Regions from separate parts of the Homo sapiens genome. Here all the other regions are linked to region 1. The links come from fine-mapping of genetic effects on gene expression. A gene starts in region 1. Each other region holds a variant in brackets. All regions are shown on one strand. Distances are between the middles of the regions. Region 1 holds the start of DPP3 (dipeptidyl peptidase 3). Region 2 has its middle 14 kb from the start of PELI3. Region 3 overlaps TOP6BL (TOP6B like initiator of meiotic double strand breaks).

What was found. PIP is the estimated chance that this variant, and not a neighbour inherited with it, causes the effect.
Region 2: its variant is fine-mapped to the expression of DPP3 in activated CD8 T cells (Schmiedel 2018, PIP 0.95).
Region 3: its variant is fine-mapped to the expression of DPP3 in whole blood (TOPMed, PIP above 0.99).

Annotation. Positions count from the first base shown.
Region 1 is chr11:66,479,132-66,481,891 of GRCh38, reverse strand. DPP3 (dipeptidyl peptidase 3) reads right to left here and starts at 1,458. Exons shown (of 18, transcript NM_130443.4): 1 at 1,427-1,458. DPP3-DT (DPP3 divergent transcript) reads left to right here and starts at 1,643. Exons shown (of 4, transcript NR_120586.1): 1 at 1,643-1,853. RefSeq lists enhancers at 1,319-1,488, 2,065-2,632 and a silencer at 1,629-1,678.
Region 2 is chr11:66,451,972-66,454,731 of GRCh38, reverse strand. It overlaps the pseudogene LOC100505524. Among named protein-coding and RNA genes, the nearest start is that of PELI3, 14 kb to the left of the region's middle. RefSeq lists a silencer at 2,106-2,299. The variant AATAAATAG/G (reference allele first, on the strand shown) is at 1,275.
Region 3 is chr11:66,763,285-66,766,044 of GRCh38, reverse strand. The region is part of intron 2 of TOP6BL (TOP6B like initiator of meiotic double strand breaks); the gene reads right to left. Among named protein-coding and RNA genes, the nearest start is that of TOP6BL, 20 kb to the right of the region's middle. The variant G/A (reference allele first, on the strand shown) is at 1,402.

The sequences.
Region 1 (2,760 bases):
TGGATCACCTGAGGTCAAGAGTTCAAGACCAGCCTGACCAACATGGTGAAACCTCCTTTCTACTAAAAATACAAAAATTAGCCAGGCTTGGTGCCAGGCACCTGTAATCTCAGCTACTGGGAAGGCTGAGGCAGGAGAATCACTTGAACCCAGGAGGTGGAGGCTGCAGTGAGCTGAGACCGCACCATTGCACTCCAGCCTGGGCAACAGAGTGAGACTCCACCTCAAAAAAAAAAAAATTGATTGACTCTAACTACCTAGTATTACAGATGGGGAAACTGAGGTTCAGAGAGGCTAAGAGCCTTGCCTAATCCCACAATGGAGACATCAGCAGCAGAGATCCTCATCTCTAGGCTCCCAGCCCAGGCCCCTCCCTGCTTCCTTGTTCAGTATTATTTTTTTAAGACGGAGTCTCACTTAGTTGCCCAGGCTGGAGTGCAGTGGCATGATCTTGACTCACTGCAACCTCCGCCTCCCGGGTTCAAGCGATTCTCCTGCCTCAGCCTCCAAAGTAGTTGGGACTACAGGCGTGCATCACCATGCCCAGCTAATTTTTTGTATTTTTGATAGAGACGGGGTCTCGCTATTTTGTCCAGGCTGGTCTCGAACTCCTGGCCTCAAGCGATCTGCTTGCCTTGGCCTCCCAAAGTGCTGGGATTACAGGCGTGAGCCACCGCGCCTGGCCTTTGTTCAGAATTCTTTACACTTTCCACTGTGCTCACAAGGATAAAGTGCCAGGCCGCCAGCTGGAAGGCTCAGCCTTTAGCCAGGACTCGGCCCCAGACTCCTAAAAGTCAAGTCCATTGCTTCACTTTTCTGTACCTCCGTTTCCTCCTCTATAAAAGAGAGAATAACCCCAATATTACCAGGTGGGTGCGCTAATCAGATGAAGTCGCCCTGGACGGAAAGTATCCACAGCAATAAATGATTTTGCTTGAAACTGTCCCATTCTCATCCCTCTAAATGCCTTTTCCTTGGCCCTCCATTCTCCTGCTCGCTCCCTGTGCTCCACCAGGGAAGCCACAGAAGTTCACAACCAGAAGAAAGCCCATTTTACAGATAGGGAAACTGAGGCTTGGAAAGGGCAACAATTTACTGAAGGTCTGACAGCCCCGTTGGAACCCGGGGATTCCCCAACCCGGGGCATTCTCCCCGCCACGCCCCGTCCCGGCTGGGACAGAGTGTCCAGCCTCCTCGCCCTGCCCCGGCCTCCAGAAGCCCCGCCCCAATAGCACAGCCTCGAGGTTCGGAAAGGGCTGTTAACTCTTTGCTCCCCGGAGCACTCCTTGGCCTCGAGGGCGGGGTGAATTTGGAGGGGGTACTGGAGAGTGGGCAGAAAGGGAACGATTTTGCGCTCAGTATGGATTCGCCTTGGTCCCCCGGGATGACACGCTTTGACCCCAAAAGCCCAGGCGCCGCGCCTCACCTGCAGCAGCTGCTCCGTTCGCAAACTCACTTCCTGCTTCCGGCTCCCCCATTCATTGGGGCTCTGCGAACCCCGCCCCCCTTGGCCAACTGCCTGGCCTCGGGGTCCGGATGGGCGTCAGTACCAGCCAATAGACGCGCCAAGACGAGCTTCTCGGCTCGCCCGCTCCCGCCCCCAGGCGCTACGGGGTGGCGCGCGGATTGGCCCTGCGGGCTCGGCCTTTTGTCAGCAGGCCGCACACGCGCCGGACCGGGTACCGCTGTGCCCGGCCTGGCCGCGGCCTAGTCCCGGCAGACGGGACTGACGAGGTCACCAAGCCCAGGCCGAGACGGCGCGGGTGTCAGGGACTTGGGAATCCCCCTCCCCCAGTCCCGATCCCGCTTTCCTTTGGGGTTTCACCTCAGAGGACCCGACAGCACTCTTGCAGGTGGGAACCTACACAATAGGAGTAATGTGGCTCCACCTTCCTCTCGGGACTCGGGACCTGGGGGTGGAGACTTGGAAGTTGCAAAGCTCTCGGTGCCGGGAATCGGGGCTACGGTTGAGTGGGATCGGGCCAGGGCTGAGGTGGTCCCACCCGTGTAGGGGCGCGGAGAAACGCCTCGACTGCTTCACTGTACCACCACCCACCCGCCACGGGCCTGGAAGGAGCCGCTAAACATTCCCGAGCCTCAGTTTCCTTAGCACAAACAGGCTGGTAGTTTCCTGGTGCTTGCCAGATGCCTGATGGATGAGAAAGCCTCCTGCGGCCCCGAAAGGGAGTCCAGAGCAGAGGCGGGCCCGCGGTCCACTTTTACAGGTCTGGACGGACTCACGGGACCACGGTCTGGGTGGGGCATGCGGAAGGGCCTAGGCCAAATGGGGAGTAGTGGTGAGGGCCCAGGGTCAGACTGGGGGGTGGAGTGAGGTTGTCTGGGAGTCTTGGCTTTATGAACCGGAAAACCAGGCTAATAATTGAATCCAATCCAAGGGATATTGTAAGTTGTGATGTGTTGACTGCAGTGCCGCTCCCTATAGTTGCGCAGGGTGAGGGGCGTTTGGGTACTGAAATCCCGCACGGTCTCCTTGCTACGCCCGTGTCTAGGCCAGACAGCCTCTGCTTACCATAGACACCAGTTTCTCATCCACAAAGGTGCCCAAGGCCCTGCTTGACACAACAGTGTTACAAGCTGTTAGCTTTGATGATTACTTGTTATATGGGGGAGTTCAACAAGTTGGTCGGTGTCCTTAGGAAAGTCACCCCTCTTCTTTCCTGTGCCTCCGTTTTCATTGTCTTTAAAATGGGTATAAAGTTGGCTGACAGGTGAAGTTGAAATGTGCACAGGTAAGGGAGG
Region 2 (2,760 bases), 27 kb after region 1:
AAAAGAGGAATGTCAACATTTATTTGGCACCACTGAGTTCAGAATATCCTTAGGGCTCTGTATAGGTGACAAAAGGAGTATCAGGCCATGGTCATTTCCTTAGGAAGATGCCGTATAGGAAGAGAGGGTGGAAAATCATGAGGGCATTCGTCAGCCTCCGGTACTTTGCTGCTCAAGTTTCAGGAGCTGTTTGTCAAGTTTTGAGGTGTTTTCTTGATGCATCATCAGAAACTGGCCACACAAGTGAAAGACAGGAATGTCAAATTTATACCTTTCATACCAGGCAGAGTTTTCTGGAAGTGTGACGTTCACTTCCTGTAAAATAAACCTGTTACTATAAGGCTTGAGTACTTCCTTGGCTTCACCACAAAGGGGGCGTGGGTCCTTTGTGAATAAGGTCAGCACGGGCAGAGTTGTCTTAGAGACAGAGCAGTTTATCAAGAAGAGTCCAAGGGAGGATCTGGCAAGCTGCATGCTATTTCCTTGAAACCAGAGCATCTTAATTCCAATCCAGATGATTTCTCCCCTTCAAAATAATTGCAAGCAAGGTTAAAACTGTATTCAGGAACTATTCCAGCTGGCTTTTGGCTTTCTCTGATGTATACTCCTGAGCTTCACGCCGCCAACATCTCTGCTTCTGCCCCACACCCAGGCTGGGCTCCCTTTGACCTTTGATTGGTGACATGGAGAGTTAGGGACCCAGAACTGCCTGCAAGTAGTTCATACCCCACCCCTGCCATTGCCCACATTCAACCTGTCACAAAGTCCTGCCTACTATGTCCCCACAGCTCCCATCAACCTTGCGATCCCCTCTGCAACTGTCCAGAGAGGCAGGGCTGAGATCTAGGTTCTGCCTCTCCTGACACACAGACAGACAACTCTCCCTAGTTGTGACCTTGGGCAAGTCTTTTCACCTTTCTGAGCCTTGGTTTTCTCAACTATGAAATAAAAATAAAGAGGCTGGGAGTGGTGGCTCACGCCTGTAATCCCAGCACTTTGGGAGGCTGAGGCGGGTGGATCACGAGATCAGGAGTTTGAGACCAGCCTGGCCAATATGGTGAAACCCCATCTCTACTAAAAATACAAAAAATTAGCTGGGCGTGGTGGCGGGCACCTGTAATCCCAGCTACTCAGGAGGCTGAGGCAGGAGAATTGCTTGAACCTGGGAGGCAGAGGTTGCAGTGAGCTGAGATCACACCATTGCACTCCAGCCTGGGTGACAGAATGAGACTCCATTTCAAAAATAAATAAATAAATAAATAAATAAATAAATA[AATAAATAG/G]GCCAGGCGCGGTGGCTCATGCCTGTAATCCCAACACTTTGGGAGGCCAAGGTGGGCAGATCACAAGGTCAAGAGATCAAGACCATCATGGTGAAACCCCATCTCTACTAAAAATACAAAAATTAGCTGGGGGTGGTGGCATGCGCATGTACTTGGGAGGCTAAGGCAGGAGAATCGCTTGAACCCGGGAGGCGGAGGTTGCAGTGAGCCGAGATCACGCCACTGCACTCCAGCCTGGTGACAGAGAAAGACTCCATCTTAAAAAATAATAATAAATAAATAAATAAATAAAGACACTGGCCGGGTGTGGTGGCTCATGCCTGTAATCCCAGTATTTTGGGAGGCTAAGGCAGGAGGATCACTTGAGCCCAGGAGTTTGAGACCAGCCTGAGCAACATGGCAAAACTGTCTCTACAAAAAAGCACAAAATTTAGCCAGGCATGGTGGCATGTGCCTATAGTGCCAGCTACTTGGGGGACTGAGGTGGGAGGATTGCTTGAGCCTGGGAGATCGAGGCTGCATGAACCATGTTTGTGCCACAGCACTCCAGCCTGGGTGACAGAGTGAGACCTTGTCTCAAAATAATAGTAGTAATAATAATAAAGATACCTACCATACAAGACTGTTGTGAGAAATCAGTAAGATTACCCAGGAAGGGTGCTTAGCTCAGGCCTGGCTCATGGCATATGTTAAACACTCTCTAAAAGTCAACCACTATTAGTATCAATTCAGACTTCATCATTTCTTGGCTGGGCACTCAGGACAGCCCCCTTGATGGCCTCTCTGTCTCCATTCTTGCCCCTCCAATCTATCCTCTCCAACTGAGCCAGTGTCAAGCCCCTGTTTACATCTCGTCAATGGCACCTGCATCTTCTTTGCTGAGGGTGGGTCTTGGTCCATCTGAGATACTGATTAAAGTGCAGCTTTCTAGGATGTCCCCTCCAAGGATCCCTGCACTTGTCACAATGTCCCAGGCAATCTTGCGGTGCACTGACACTTGAGATTCACCCCTCTGCAAGCTAGTCTACATTCATTGGTGCAGGATTCAAGGCCCTTCAGATCCAGCCCCTGCCAACATTTCCAGCCTGATACTCCCTACCTCACACCATACCCTCCACTGACACCACAGCATGTGCCCCTCCCTCCTGCCCCACACTATCCTGTACCTCTGCTGTTCCCTCTGCTTCCCTGTCCCCCAGGCTGGGGAACATGCCTATTTTGGGCCAAATTGTGTCTCCCGACCCCTGCAAATTCATATGTTGAAGCCCTGGCTCCCCAGTACCTCAGAATGTGACTGTATTTGGAGAGAGGGCCTTTAAAGAGCTGATTTAACTTAACATGAGGCCAATTAGGGTGGGCTCTGATCCAATCTGATTAATGTTCTTATCAGAAGAGGAAATTTGGACACACAGAGACACCAGAGCAGAGGGAAGACCTTGTGAAGACACAGGGAGAATGTGGCCATCTTTGAGTTAAGG
Region 3 (2,760 bases), 280 kb before region 1:
GAGACTCCCTGATGAAGCTAACTAAACAGTGTAAAGATCAGTAAATGGACCAATTTAAAGCAGTTTGCTATTAGCTTAATAGTGTCAGAAATTCTAAATAATAATAGTAAAAAAGGCATAATTAATGGTGCATAAACCAGGGAGCTAAGGGATTCCTGTCTTATTCTTCACCAATTTCCTTTGTGAGGTTCACTGAGTAATTTTTGTTACTAATTAGTAAGAATAACTAGGCCAGGCACAGTGGCTTACGCCTGTAATCCCAGCACTTTGGGAGGCCGAGGCGGGTGGATCACCTGAGGTTAGGAGTTCGAGACAGGCCTGGCCAACATGGTGAAATCCCATCTCTACTAAAAATATAAAAATTAGCTGGCCGTGGTGGCAGGCGCTTGTAATCCCAGCTACTTGGGAGGCTGAGGCAGGAGAATTTCTTGAACCTAGGAGGCAGAGGTTGCAGTGAGCCAAGATCACGCCACTGCACTCCAGCCTGGGTGACAAGAGTGAGACTCCATCTCAAAAACAAACAAACAAACAAAAAGAATAACTAGCATTATTGAGTGGAGGTTAATATTAAGAGCCCTAACAACTGGAGAGAAGACTTAGGCTACAGTTGGCTACTAAATGTGATTGAGCATGAGCAAATGATTCAATTTTAATTATGTACTTGATGTGCAGTACTTCCTCTTTGTACGAAGAGTTAGCCACTCACACTTTATCACAATAAGGATTAAATGAAATTGCTTTGAGTTTTTAAAGTAACAGTTAAATTAAAACTAAGTCACCATGACAAAAATTGTCTAGAGTTTGTATTGGCATGAGTATGTGGTTATTCCATAAATGATAACCCATAAATGATACTCCCTAAGAGTAACAATGATAATAAAACTATTCTCTTGTAGTTACACGGCTTTTCACTTTTTTCAAAGCACTTTCACAAATATTAGTCAAACAAGTAGCCTTATATATGATCTGACCACTCCTTGTACAAGCACATTAAGTGTGGGTTTATTTTGCAAGGAATGCTCCTATCTCCTCCCTAGTGCTAATAATATACTCCATTTATATAGCTTTTTTTTTTTGGAGACAAGATCTCACTCTGTCACCAAGGCTGTAGTGCAGTGGCGCAATCACAGCTCACTGCAGACTTGACCTCCTGGGCTCAAATGGATCTCCTGCCTCAGCCCCCTAGTAGCTGGGACCCCAGGCACACCTAGCTGATTTTCACATGCCTGGCTGATTTTTGTATTTTTTGTAGAGATGGGGTTTCATCATGCTGCCCAAGGCTCGAGCAATCTGCCTACCTCAGTCTCCCACAGTGCTGGGATTTTAGTCAGAGCCACCATGCTTGGCCAGATTTTCACTTCTTTATTTTTTTTTTTTTTGGAGATGGAGTCTCGCATTGTC[G/A]CCCGAGCTGGAGTGCAGTGGCATGATCTCAGCTTACTGCAACCTCCGCCTCCCAGGTTCAAGCGATTCTCCTGCCTCAGCCTCCCAAGTAGCTGGGGTTACAGGTGCCCACTACCACCCCCAGCTAATTTTTTTTTTTTTTTTTTTGTATTTTTAGTAGAGACAGGGTTTCACTATGTTGACCAGGCTGGTTTAAACTCCTGACCTTGTGATCCGCCCGCCTAGGCCTCCCAAAGTGCTGGGATTACAGGTGTGAGCCACCGCGCCCGGCCGATTTTCACTTCTTTCAAAGCAATTTCACAGACATTAACAGGAGCAGGGCCACTAGGAATGATCTTTCCCTTCTCTGCATCAACCCAAAGACAATAATTCAAAAATGAACAAGGAAAAACTTATAAATAATTAGATGTTTTTGAAGCAGTCAGCCCATGATTCTTGAACTTGGATTCAGATCTCCCAAAAGTCTCAGAATCAGAGCAAACTCTTCAGGACAATAGCTGATATTCCCTTTTTTCTAGGCATAGGCTTAAAGAGGCAATAGAATAATTAAGGTATCTTCACTAGGGGTATAAAGGGAGAAACCAAATCTGTCTTGTTCACTACTATAACTACCTTTAAGTGGAGCACAAGGCCTAATGCATAGTAAATGCTCAATAAATTATCATTGTGATTAATACTAAAGGGAGAACATTCTTACCAAATGCTCACAGAATGTTCTGGAGCTAAAATAAAAATCTTGGCTGGGCAGGGTGGCTCACACTTGTAATCCCTACGTTTTGGGAGGCTGTTGCATGAGAGCTTGAGACCAACCAGAAGTTTGAGACCAGCCAGGGCAACAAAGTGAGATCCCATCTTTAGAAAAAATTTAAAAAGTAACTGGGCATGGAGGTGTGCACATGTGACCCTAGCTACTCAAGAGGCTGAGGCTGGAGGATGGCTCAAGTCCAGGAGCTTGGGGCTGCAGTGAGCCATGATCACACCATTGCACCCCAGTCTGGGTGACAGAGCAAGGCCCTGTCTCAAAAATAATAATAGGACAGGTGCAGTGACTCATGCCTGTAATCCCAGCATTTTGGGAGGCCGAGGTGGGAGGACTGCTTGAGCCCAGGAGTTCAGGACCAGCCTGGGCAACATAGTGAGACCTCATCTCTAATAATAATAATAATAATAATGTTTAAAATCTCATTTTTTATTACTTTTCCTCCACAATTAGTTTTTAAATGTGCTCAAAATAAAACAAAAAACATTAATGTGCTCACACCAAGTAGAACCTAAACAAAATTAGGGTCACAGAGCAAAAGCCGAAGTCTGTAAAATATCCAAGGATACAGACAGTTGGAAGGTAGATTCAGAGGGCCA